2 separate regions of the Homo sapiens genome follow, and region 2 is linked to region 1. A link means that fine-mapping ties the variant in region 1 to the expression of a gene that starts in the linked region. Tissue or cell type: monocytes after LPS. Region 1 holds a variant in brackets; the other region holds the start of a gene. All regions are shown on one strand. Distances are between the middles of the regions.

Evidence for each region. PIP is the estimated chance that this variant, and not a neighbour inherited with it, causes the effect.
Region 2: it holds the start of ETFBKMT, and the variant in region 1 is fine-mapped to the expression of ETFBKMT in monocytes after LPS (Fairfax 2014, PIP 0.95).

The regions. Positions count from the first base shown.
Region 1 is chr12:30,783,678-30,789,404 of GRCh38, reverse strand. No RefSeq gene overlaps it. Among named protein-coding and RNA genes, the nearest start is that of LINC00941, 9.1 kb to the left of the region's middle. RefSeq lists an enhancer at 3,415-3,916. The variant T/G (reference allele first, on the strand shown) is at 3,417.
Region 2 is chr12:31,656,402-31,662,128 of GRCh38, reverse strand. It overlaps ETFBKMT (electron transfer flavoprotein subunit beta lysine methyltransferase), which reads right to left and starts at 2,441. Exons shown (of 4, transcript NM_001135863.2): 1 at 2,340-2,441; 2 at 1-288. The coding sequence starts at 175. RefSeq lists enhancers at 1-46, 2,494-2,653, 2,571-3,072 and a silencer at 2,774-3,083.

The sequences.
Region 1 (5,727 bases):
CTGCTATGCGGGCATCCCTCAGCCTCATGAAGTTGACATTAAAAAATTAACTGTCACACCCTCACTTTTGCCAAATTCCATGTATTAGAAGCAAGTCATTAGGCTCAGCCCACACTCTAGGGGAAGGAATTATACAAGGGCTGATCACCAAGAGGTGGAGACCACTGGGAGCTATGTCTGAAGCTGTCTATCACAGGTATGTGGGCACTATCCTAAAATGCTTTACATGTCTTAAGTCACATAATCCTTCCAGCACAGCTTAAGATAGATATGCTATTATTGACTCAATTTCACAAATGAGATATCAAGAAGTAAAGTAACTTGCCTGTGGTCAAACAGCTAAAGTCAGTGGGGTTTGGAGATTTGAACCTAAGCTGTCTTGGTTCAGCATCTGTATTCTTAACCTGTTTGCTGCACTATTTGAAATGGAGGCGTCCAGTAAGAGCTGGAATCTGGACTTCTTGGGAGAGGATTGGACTGGCAAAAGAGATTGGGAGGATGAAATTAACGAATCCTAGAAGAATCACAACTGATTTTCAATTTGTTTCTCTTTTGCACCCAGACTTCTCTCCAGTGCCAAGGAGATAACTTTTCTCCTAGCATCTTTGTAACAGTGAAAAGGAGGCCTAGCTCAACAAACTCCATTTTGCTCCTAACACCCCCCTTCCCCCTCCAGGTGGTACCTTTTAGATTAACTAATTTTTATTATCTCTGCATGAAGGCCAAGAAAATGATATGATGGAAGGAATTTAGTTTGTAGTTTAACTTTAAAGCAAGGATAATAGGATGCTAGTTCCTTCCCAAAACTAACCTCCAAGGAGGTAAGGAGTGTGTACATACAAGGAACAATGTTATTTTAAAGATTTATGGGATCCTAGCTTTCACTCGGTATATGAAAAAATAAAATAATAATAAGAAATATATAATTAAAGATTTATAGGAGCATTGTGACCTGACCAAGGACAAAGAAGTTTTCCAACTCCCTCTCAGATGCTCTCTGCTGCCCAGATGCCTATAACCATCAGTCACCTCTTGAACTCCATCTCCTTCTACCCTCTTCCCTTAACAATAAAGGGACCGGAAATGCACATTGCCTTAAGACAGTTCTTTAGGACATTAGTCCATCATCTTCTCGGTTGAGCAGATAAACTGAGTTATTGCCCTCTTGCCCCAACACCTTGTCTCGTGACTTATTGACTGTCCTGCAGTGAGCAATACCAGCTTAGACTCCACTACATTATCTTGTAGTATTCATCTGTTCCCTTACTTTTGACAAGTGTTTACTGACTACCAACTATGTGTAAGGAAAGTGCTAGATCCTAGGGAATATATTTTTAGCTCTCTGGATACAGAAGATGAAATTTAGTTTGAGAAGTTATTGAACAACTTGTTCAAAACATCTACTTAACTGTCATCTATTTCAACTTGAACTGCCTTTCTATTAAATGTACCACTATTAAATGTTGTGATGGTACTAGAAAATCAGCAATTTGTAAAGCATTTGCACAAATTCTAACAAGGCTTACCACTTCGGCTTTTTCTATTATCTACTTAGCAATCAAAGCAACGCCTTAATTTAACGTATGATATTGAAAATAATTTTACAATATTTCCAATTAAGTTAATTTTCACATTGCTTTTGTGCTCTTTGTCATCACATGGAGAATGATGAATTCTATTTTACATTTCATTAGTGAACATAAGGTGTGTTTTTCCATTTGGGTCACTATTAGCTCTCTATTATCTAATTTCAAAAATACTGAGTTCAGTACCCAATCTACAAATTATACAGTAACCACTTCTCTAAATGAACCACAATTTAGAGTTAAGCTCACAAGCCATTTCTTCATTTGTGCAAATGTGTAACAAGCCAAAGCTTAATGGTTCATTTCAGTTAAGTAGGTTGCACAAAATTTAGAAGTTTGTTAGTAAGAAATGTGACCTAGAACCATTATGGAAATGAAGAAAAGATGAAATTACACAGTTTAGACCCATATTATCCAACTCCTAATTTAGTCAGAGATTATTGAAGTGACAACTCTCCTTTTTATGAAATAAAATACTTGAAAAAATAAGAACATTGTTCTGCTTTTAATCTCTGCTAAATAGACAGTTAGTTACCAGGAGAAATATGTTGTAAAAACCAGCCTATGAAGAATATCAGGAAAGAAAGTAATGTTACCTGGAAAATCTAACCTACTAAATTTTGATAAGCATATGAGCCACCAATCTAGTTACATTGCCAGGAAATTCTGATAAAAGGCAACTATTAATTTCTAAAGGATAAATCTGACAGAATCTCAGGATAATTCCATTTGGACTCCTTATTTTTTATTATTATTATTATCTTTTTTTTTTTTTTTAAATTTATTTATTTTTTTTTTTGAGACGGAGTCTCGCTCTGTCGCCCAGGCTGGAGTGCAGTGGCGGGATCTCGGCTCACTGCAAGCTCCGCCTCCCGGGTTCACGCCATTCTCCTGCCTCAGCCTCCCAAGTAGCTGGGACTACAGGCGCCCGCCACTACGCCCGGCTAATTTTTTTGTATTTTTAGTAGAGACGGGGTTTCACCGTTTTAGCCGGGATGGTCTCGATCTCTTGACCTCGTGATCCACCCGCCTCGGCCTCCCAAAGTGGGACTCCTTATTTTTTTTTAAGTTTTTGTGCTATTGCTATGGAAATATTCTGATGATTTACATGGTTGTGCTAGAGTTTTTTAATTTGTCTATTAGAATTGTGAGAACTTCCTTTACAAAAGTGCTCATTTTTATGTAGCTAAGAGACCAGTACAGATCTTCTCCAAAGAATATCATCATCACAAATTAAATAAAAACTTAGCATACAAAAGGATTCACATTTTACTGCTGAAAGTGCCTCCGGATCTAAATCAGCCCATCAATCAAGGCTTTCTTAGACACTGACTAAATGTTTAGCATAATCCTGAGTACTCTGGGGCTGTGGAACTCTGCATCTGCTGAACGCCAGGATCTAATGGGGAGCTTTATCAAATAAACAGGTTCCCGGTGGCTCCACTTCTGAAGATTCAAATTGGTGGCTTCTGGCATGAGGCTCTTGGGAATCTGGTTTTTTTGTTTGTTTGTTTGTTTTTCTTTTTTTGTCTTGTTTTGTTTTTAACATCACAGGTGATTCTGATGATTAGTCAGGACTGGGAACCATACCTGCTGTGGTTCCCAAAATCTGGTCCCTGGACCCACATTATCTGCATCACCTAGCAACTTATTAGAAATGCAAATTCTCAGGGCTGTGAATGGAAAATAAAAATCTCGGGACCCCGAACTCACTATGCCAAAGGGAAAGTGAAGCTTGGGAACTGAGTCACACAAAAGCAATCAAACTGCCTTCCTTTTTGTTCCCAACCAAATAGCTGCAAAATAGAAGGTCACATATCTTCCCAGGGG[T/G]CCTCCCTCACAAATTGCTCACAAGGAAATTCCTCGTGGACTCCACATCTTTCAGAATACATATCCCTCCTATAAACTTGCCCTAAAATAGAGTGCTGTTGAATCTTACCCTGACAATGCAAATTAACAGCTTATTTTCACAGGTAAGGGCCAAACATAAGACTAGAAATTCCTCCACCCACCCCAAACAAATGCATAATTGAGTTCTTCCTCTACTCTATGCTTACTTTATCTTATGTAAAATGTAGATATACGCAGCATGAGAAGAATGCATAATTGACTTTAACCCCACCACTCTCTTTTCACATGTAAAATGTGGATTCAGTGAGTAGTTTTTAAGGGCTAATAGAAGCCTCACAAGAATGTAAACATGTTACTGCCTACACCCAGCCTCTTTTTTTTTCTCCTTCCTCTTCTACCTGCTCTTTCCTCTTTAAATATTGAAGTCCTCAAAACCCTCTTTGGAAAAAGTACAGGCCGCAGATTCTACTGTAACTTGTGTTTCTTTTTCCCTGGCCACATCCTCAACCTTGGCAAAACAAACCTCTAACTCGATTGAGATCTGCCTCAGCCACTTTTTGGTTCACAGGCTCTATTCAGACCCACTAAATCATAGACTCTTGAAGTAGGGATTAACAATCTCTGTTTTATCAAGCCCTCCAGGTGATTTTTATGTTTGATACAGTTAAAGAATCATTTCAGATTTTTAATCTACTGAGCTTAATGACCTTTTCTTCATATGAAGATTGATGTCAAAGTTCTTTCTTTCTTTGCTGCAGAGCTAAGGAAATAGGACTTACTTTTTTCTCTTCGATTACCTAGCCAGCCACTATACCCTTCAGGGTTCTCTTATTCTTAATATGCCTGAAAAAGTGTGGAGAGGAAATAGCTTTCTCAACTTCCCACTTCCTTGCTGCTTGGGAAGACAAGAATATATGTAGACAGGCCCTTCTGCTTCCAAGGAAAATAGGAAGGAGATAACAAATGATAACCAATATGAAGATGTGTCAGAAGTTCTGGAATTTTAAAATGACTTTCTGCCCTGGTCTTGTACCCCCGGTTTTTATTCCTGATTATGGAGCTCACACCCTCCCCACTTTCTCACTCCTCCTTTAGCAAACCCTTATGACTCTTCACACCAATTCAAGGTCTAAAAAGAAAATACAGCCAGCCAGAGATGGCCTCTTTCAGCATAAATTTTATTTTTACTTGTTAATGGAAATCTCCCTAAAACAAAATTGTAAGAGTTAAAGAAACAGGAAAGAGACACGAAATGTGGTTTGACAGTAAAGACAGGTTTACTTTTGATAAAACCTGAGAGGGGCTTCTGGCTGACTTTGGTTAGGAGCACTTTCTCTTACAGACTAAGAGAACATATTGGTTTTAGGGTAAGGGGGCTTATTAGAAGCTTGGAATGTTTCTGTGTGAGGGACAAGTTTTATGGTGGGGTTGGAATGTCTCTGGGAGGAGGGGAGTTTATCTTGGGGCAGACATCTTTCTGGCTTGGAGTGGGGTTATCTCGGAGCTGGCATCTTCCTGGCTGGCGGGGGGTTATCTCGGGGCTGGCAAGTCTCTGATTGGGGAGGAGTTTGGAATGTTTCTGGTTGGAGATGTTATTTGTGGTTATTGTGGTTTATGCTGACCTTAGCCATTAGGCTGATACCCTTTGGATTTAGGCGTTTTTTTTTTATTAAGGTGAACTTTAGAATGAGGGGCTTGTCCAAGATGGTGATGCTCCTGCTCTGTCAAAAATTTGTTTACTGTCATCTGGATTTTTGTTGATGGATCATTTAGTATTATTACAATGAACATTAACTGTTATATACTGCAACAAACAATGATGTCATGGACTTTAAAGACTGAAGATGTGTTTAGCCATTAAATGATCTAAGATGTCTAGGATTTTATTTCTTATATTTATATTTCTTTCTTTTCACTACCAAGTGATCAGAAAATCTGCCTAAATACCTTTTCCAATATTAGTTTTTACTGCTTTGAATTTTTTGCTTTTAATTTGTGAGGGCTGGGAAACCAGAAAATACGTTTGTTAAAATTGTGTTTTAAATGAGTACAGCAGATTAAGTTGTGTGATACTCAATGCTGATGAGGTTGTATTAAAGTTAGAACTTCCTGATTATTGTTTGAAAGCATTAATGTAATCCTTTGAGAAAGCAATTTGGCAACATATAACAAGATCCTTAAAATATTTATATTCTTTAATATAATATTCTTTTTTCTAGAATTAACATAAGAACTTAATTTATTGCCAAAGTATTTATCCACAATGAAATTTTAACGTAATTTATAATAA
Region 2 (5,727 bases), 870 kb before region 1:
TGGTGACTTCAGTGTTCTCCTCCAGGAAAGCCTTTATCTCAGGGTCCAAAAAGCTTCCAGCTCCTCTCCAGGGACACTGGCCACAGGGAAACAAGAGAAGACCACTGCTTCGCAGAGCCTGCAAGAGGAGACCACAGTGGTTCCTGTGTGCTTTCCAACCTAGACTCAAAGCCATCAGTCCTTTCCCCAAACACAGGTTCTGTCAATGTTCTGTTGATAATAGCTGCTTCTCAAGGAGAATGAACAAGGGTGTGTCTCCCAACTTGATCTCAACCGGAACCTCTGACTCTGAAAAAAAAAAGAAAAGTAATACTGAGAATTCTGAGGAAGAGCAACATTTCTAGATCCTATTACATAATAAGAAAATATTGGCCGGGCGCGGTGGCTCACGCCTGTAATCCCTGCACTTTGGGAGGCCAAGGCGGGTGGATCACGAGGTCAGGTGTTCAAGACCAGTGTGGCCATCATGGTGAAACCCTGTCTCTACTAAAAATACAAAAAATTAGCCAGGCGTGGTGGCGGGTACCTGTAATCTCACTACTTGAGAATTGCTTGAACCCGGGAGGCGGAGGTTGCAGTGTGCCGAGATCGCACCATTGCATTCCAGCCTGGGCAACAAGAGCAAAACTCCGTCTCATAAAAAAAAAAAAGAAATAAAATATTACAGTGTATATTACTGTATCTGATGATTCACATGTGCAAGTTCATTTCAGATGAAAGCTTTGGTGCATCAATTGGGAAAATCCAATCTTTTTAAATGATACTTTTCACAAGAGAATCCTTTTAGTAATTTAACACAACAAATATACAAGCATTTGATTTTGAAAGAATCCTCAAGAAAATGCCTCTTACAGGAAATCAGCCATACAGTCATCCTTCAGTATCCTCAAGTGATTGGTTCCGGTATCCCCTGCTTCCAGGATACCACAATCAGAGGATACTCAAGTCCCTTATATAAAATGGCATCATATTTGTATATAAACTAGGCATATGCTGTGGTATACTTTACTTTAAATCATCTCTGGATGACTCATAATACTTAATACAACGTAAATGCTATATAAGTAGTTGTTACACTATTTTTGTGTTATTTTTATTGTTGTAATTTTATATTGCTATATTGTTATATTGTGGGCCAACTGTACCTTTAAAGTTCTTTCATAAATTTAACAAAGTAGGCATGCTTGGTAACTGTGAACAAAATAACAGAAGTCTTCTGTCTTCAGGAAGCTTATATTCTAGTGGTGGGATAAAGCAGTTAACAGGGCAAACACAGTTTTTGCCTTTATGAAGTCTAGCCAAGAGTTCTGGGGGTTAATGAATTTATAATTGTCTGTGGGCAGAGATATATTAATACAAATTATATTGACTACTCTATTTCATTAAAGATTGTTGTATCATAAAACAATGCAATCAAGATTCAGGTTTTTTCCTTTAAAAATACTGTATGCATTTAATTGTAATAAAAGAACATCAACTCCTAAATCTCTTTCTGTAAAAGTATCTGATGGTTCGATTTTACCAAGCCTAAACTGAAAAGATTTGCTCCAACAGAAAAACACCTGTGCAATTGATCACTAAGATTTGTTTAAAAATATATATATATAGAAAAACACCCGGATTAGAATAAATGAGAATGAGGAACAACTTAAACACAACTTATACACCCAGTTGTTTGGGGACCTCGGATCTCTTCTGCATAAATGTTTTAAATGGTCTTAAATCCACTAAAGTATTTAGGGGTCAAAAATCCAAATCCCCACAAGGGGCTGGACATCATAAATGAGTGATGCAGGCTGGCTGTAAAATAACAGAGGGGCTGTGGCAAGCTGGAGACTGTTTTCAAACAGTTCAAAAAGGCTAGGCAGGACATGCTGCCAGATCCTCCGATTTCTCAAAATCATCAAAAAAATCTAGATATTGACACATTAGCTTCCACCTTTTTTTTTTTTTTTTTTTTTTTTTTTGAGACAGAGTCTCTGTTGCCCAGGCTGGAGTGCAGTGGCGTGATCTCGGCTCACTGCAACCTCCGACTCCCAGGTTCAAGCGATTCTCCTACCTCAGCCTCCCGAGTCCTGGGATTACAGGGGCGTGCCACCACGCCCGGCTAATTTTTGTATTTTTTTTTTTTTTTTTTTTTTTAGTAGAGACGAGGTTTCGCCATGTTGGCCAGACTGGTCTGGAACTCCTGACCTGAAGCGATCCTCCTGCCTCGACCTCCCAAAGTGCTGGGATTACAGGCGCGAGCCACCACGCCCGGCCAGCTTCGGCTTGTAAACATCAGCAACTCATTCAAATATCAAAACACAGGGCAGGTCAAAATGCATGTCAGGTCATACATAGCCTGTGAACTCAGCGTAGACTTCCAGTGGGTGTTAGTTACCCCACATCAGTGTCCTGGGATCGTAGGGGTCTCTCAGGGCCTGGTATCCCACTAGACTAATTGTTAAGCAGTACTAGGCTGTCACTTGAATCACACAACGCAGCCTAAGTTTAAAGGTAACGCAGAGCAAATAGAGATTATTTGGGATTTGGACCCCATGTCATTTAGATCGGCGCTTCCCTCTCCCGTCCCAGCACCGATGAGGCATGGGTTATGAAGTATGTGACTGTGGTGACCACTTGGTATTTCTCTTAATGAGAAGGAGAGCTGATGGGATGAAAAGAGTTACGTTCCACAACGGGTAGACGGCGGCGTCATTTTCCTCCAGAGGCGGGGTGGAGTCGATCTTAAAGGGGCAGGCACCGTCCTCCCTGTCTCCTTACCTAGCTTTGCTGACACCGCCCTCGGAAGTAAAGCATAGGGCTCGCCTGTCACTCGCCCTGGCGACTGTTCCCGCTCATGCTTTACATTTCCGGGGTCCCGCTACCAAAACTGAGCCACGCTCTAGCAGAGCGCCGCGGCCCGGCAGGGGGCGGGACGGACGGCGGCCCCTCGCGGCCCCGCCCTTTTTCCCAGCAGCGCTTTCTTTCTCCTCCACTTTCTTAAAGGGACAGAAGCGCGAAACCAAAGGGCGCCCTGACCTCACCTGGAAAATAAGGGAACGTTAAATCTGTGTGCAATGTTTGTAGAATTTTGATTCCTAAAAAGTTCATTCTGAAACTATGCAACACCTACTATGTGCCAGTCGCACTTCCAGGCACCGGGCATAGAGTGGTGAGCAAAATAGACACCGTATATTTAAAAAAAAAAAAAAAAAAAGACACAGTATAAGCCCTCTGTGCTGCCTACATTCAACTGCGATTAAATCATAATGAATGTCCTTTCTTTTCTAATAATTCATAAATTCACTAGCAATTTATTTGCAGCCTATATCACTCGAGTCTGGATCTACATATATCCACCTTTCAACTGGACCCACATCCCACTGGCCCCTCAACTCAACACTCAAAGTTAACTCACCATCTGACCTGACAACAATTAAAACCTGCTCTGGCGTGCTAGAGGGGGGAAAACGGTCCAAAACTAAGAAACAGGAAAATCGTGTTTCTGCATTTTAGTTTGCAGTTTGAGAAATGCACTGGCACCTGCCTGTTCAAAATTAGAATTTGTCGCTTGGGTTCTGCGCTCCTGCCATGGGTGTGACAGCTTTCTGTCTTTCCATGTAAACTGGAATCTTTAGGAACTACTACAAGGAAAGGAAACTTTGTGCTTCCAGTCAACAGCCCCAGATGCAGCCTTATCATTTCTTTCTTAGTTGAATGGTGTATTTGCTACATTCTTGTTGATAAGCTATACACCTTGCATTTCACAGTATTCTGCCTTAGATTTCCTGTGTAATAACTGATATAATGTGTTTATGAACTGCATTCATCCACTTATGAGCTGCTTTTTTCTTAATTAGTTGCTGATGTAAACGCTTGTTTTCTCAACTATAACTTTTCATTACCACACACTCTCCGATTCTCCTGCTAGCAGTGAACCTTGATCCATGTTCAAGATCAATTTCTATAAGAAATATTGTTTTTAACCAGCTTCGGTGTTCTATCCCAATTAATAGTTTGAACATCCCAGTCACTGCCCAAGAAACCAGAACGAACAGGCTAACCTAACATTTTTACAAAAGAGGGTTGGTTCCTGGAAAAAAGCTTGGTAGTCATCACTGAAGATGCATTTAATAATGTTTGGATAACTCATTCAAAACTTGCAACTTGGCTGAAGGGACTGCAACATGCCTTTCCTGTCCCATAATGGATTTAAAACTGGTCCAGTTCTTTCTATCCCTCCTGCCATTGCCTTAGTTTGGCATTATAATGGCTTGCCTGGGTTCCTATAACTTGTCTATCTCTAATTCTGCCTTCCTTAAAACTATTCTTTTTTTTTTTTTTTTTTTTTTGAGATGAAGTCTTGCTCTGTCGCCCAGGCTGGAGTGCAGTGGCATGATCTCGGCTCATTGTAACCTCTGCCTCCTGGGTTCAAGCCATTCTCCTGCCTCAGCTTCCCCAGTAGCTGGGATTATAGGCGCACACCACCACACCCAGCTAATTTTTGTGTTTTTAGTAGAGACGGGGTTTCACCATGTTGGTCAGGCTGGTGCCCAACTTTTGACCTCGTGATCCGCCCACCTCGGCCTCCCAAAGTGTTGGGATTACAGGTGTGAGCCACTGCGACCGGCCAAGATTATTCTTTATATTGCAGCTTAAATGATTTTTTTCTGAAACTTAGATTCCATAGTCTAGAAAAGGCCTGCCCTTCCTTTAGTCCCAGACAAAGCATGAAAAACAGGGATATATGGATTTTCTTTTCTGTTGTTTGGTGTTGATGCATTGTAATGTCTTAATAGAAAGGACCGTCTAGATTTTAACAAAATTGACCCACATACATCCAAGCAGACTTGTGAACTGATAACAATTTGAGCTGTTGTCTATCCTTGTGATTTTTTTACTTTAAATACCTGCCCTACATTTTTGTTTACAAAGCCAGTTCTCTAATAATCGGTCCCTCTTGCAGGTGCAAGTAAAAAATTCTATTCCCTACACAACTTTGTCTTTAAGGGTTTTTTGGTTTTTCAACAAGTTATTCAATTACACTTATTAACTGTATGATCTTGGACACATTGCTAAACCTTCTTAATAATCAGTTTCTTCATCTGTAAAATAGTGATGATAGTAATAATGTTTTAGGAAGATTTAATAAGATAAAAGCACATCTTGTTTAGCCCAGTTCCTGGCATGTAGTAAATGCTTGCTAAGTATGCTATTACAGTGATGATCATTATTAGAAACACAGAGATAGTGTTGATGAGCAGCAGATCAGGTTTTCAGTTAAAGGTGAGAGGATCAAACTTGAATTTTAGAAAAATGTTTTATGCTGCAGGTAGCAAAGAGTTAAAGGCGGGGCAAGACTGAAGACAAGGAAACCGCCATTGGAGGATATTATGGTAATCCAAGCAAACAATAATGGAGACAGAACTAAGGTAACTGCGATAGGGATGGAAAGAATTGGAACATTTGAAAATGATTAAGGATGAGCTATTAGCAGGACTTGGAGACTAATTAAATACACTCGTTTAACCGTAATGCTAGCCAATCTAAGGGCAAGATGGTTTCTCTTGCTCCACTCGATTGGCCTGTGCTGTTCATCAGCAGGCTATCTGTGTTCTCCCTTGCTTAAAACCTGCTCTAGCTCCCCAGACCTTCAATGGTACAGCCGGATTCCTGACCACAGCTTTCCTGGCCCATGCTGATCAGTCCCGACTTAACCTATCCTGCCTCTTTTCAAAACAC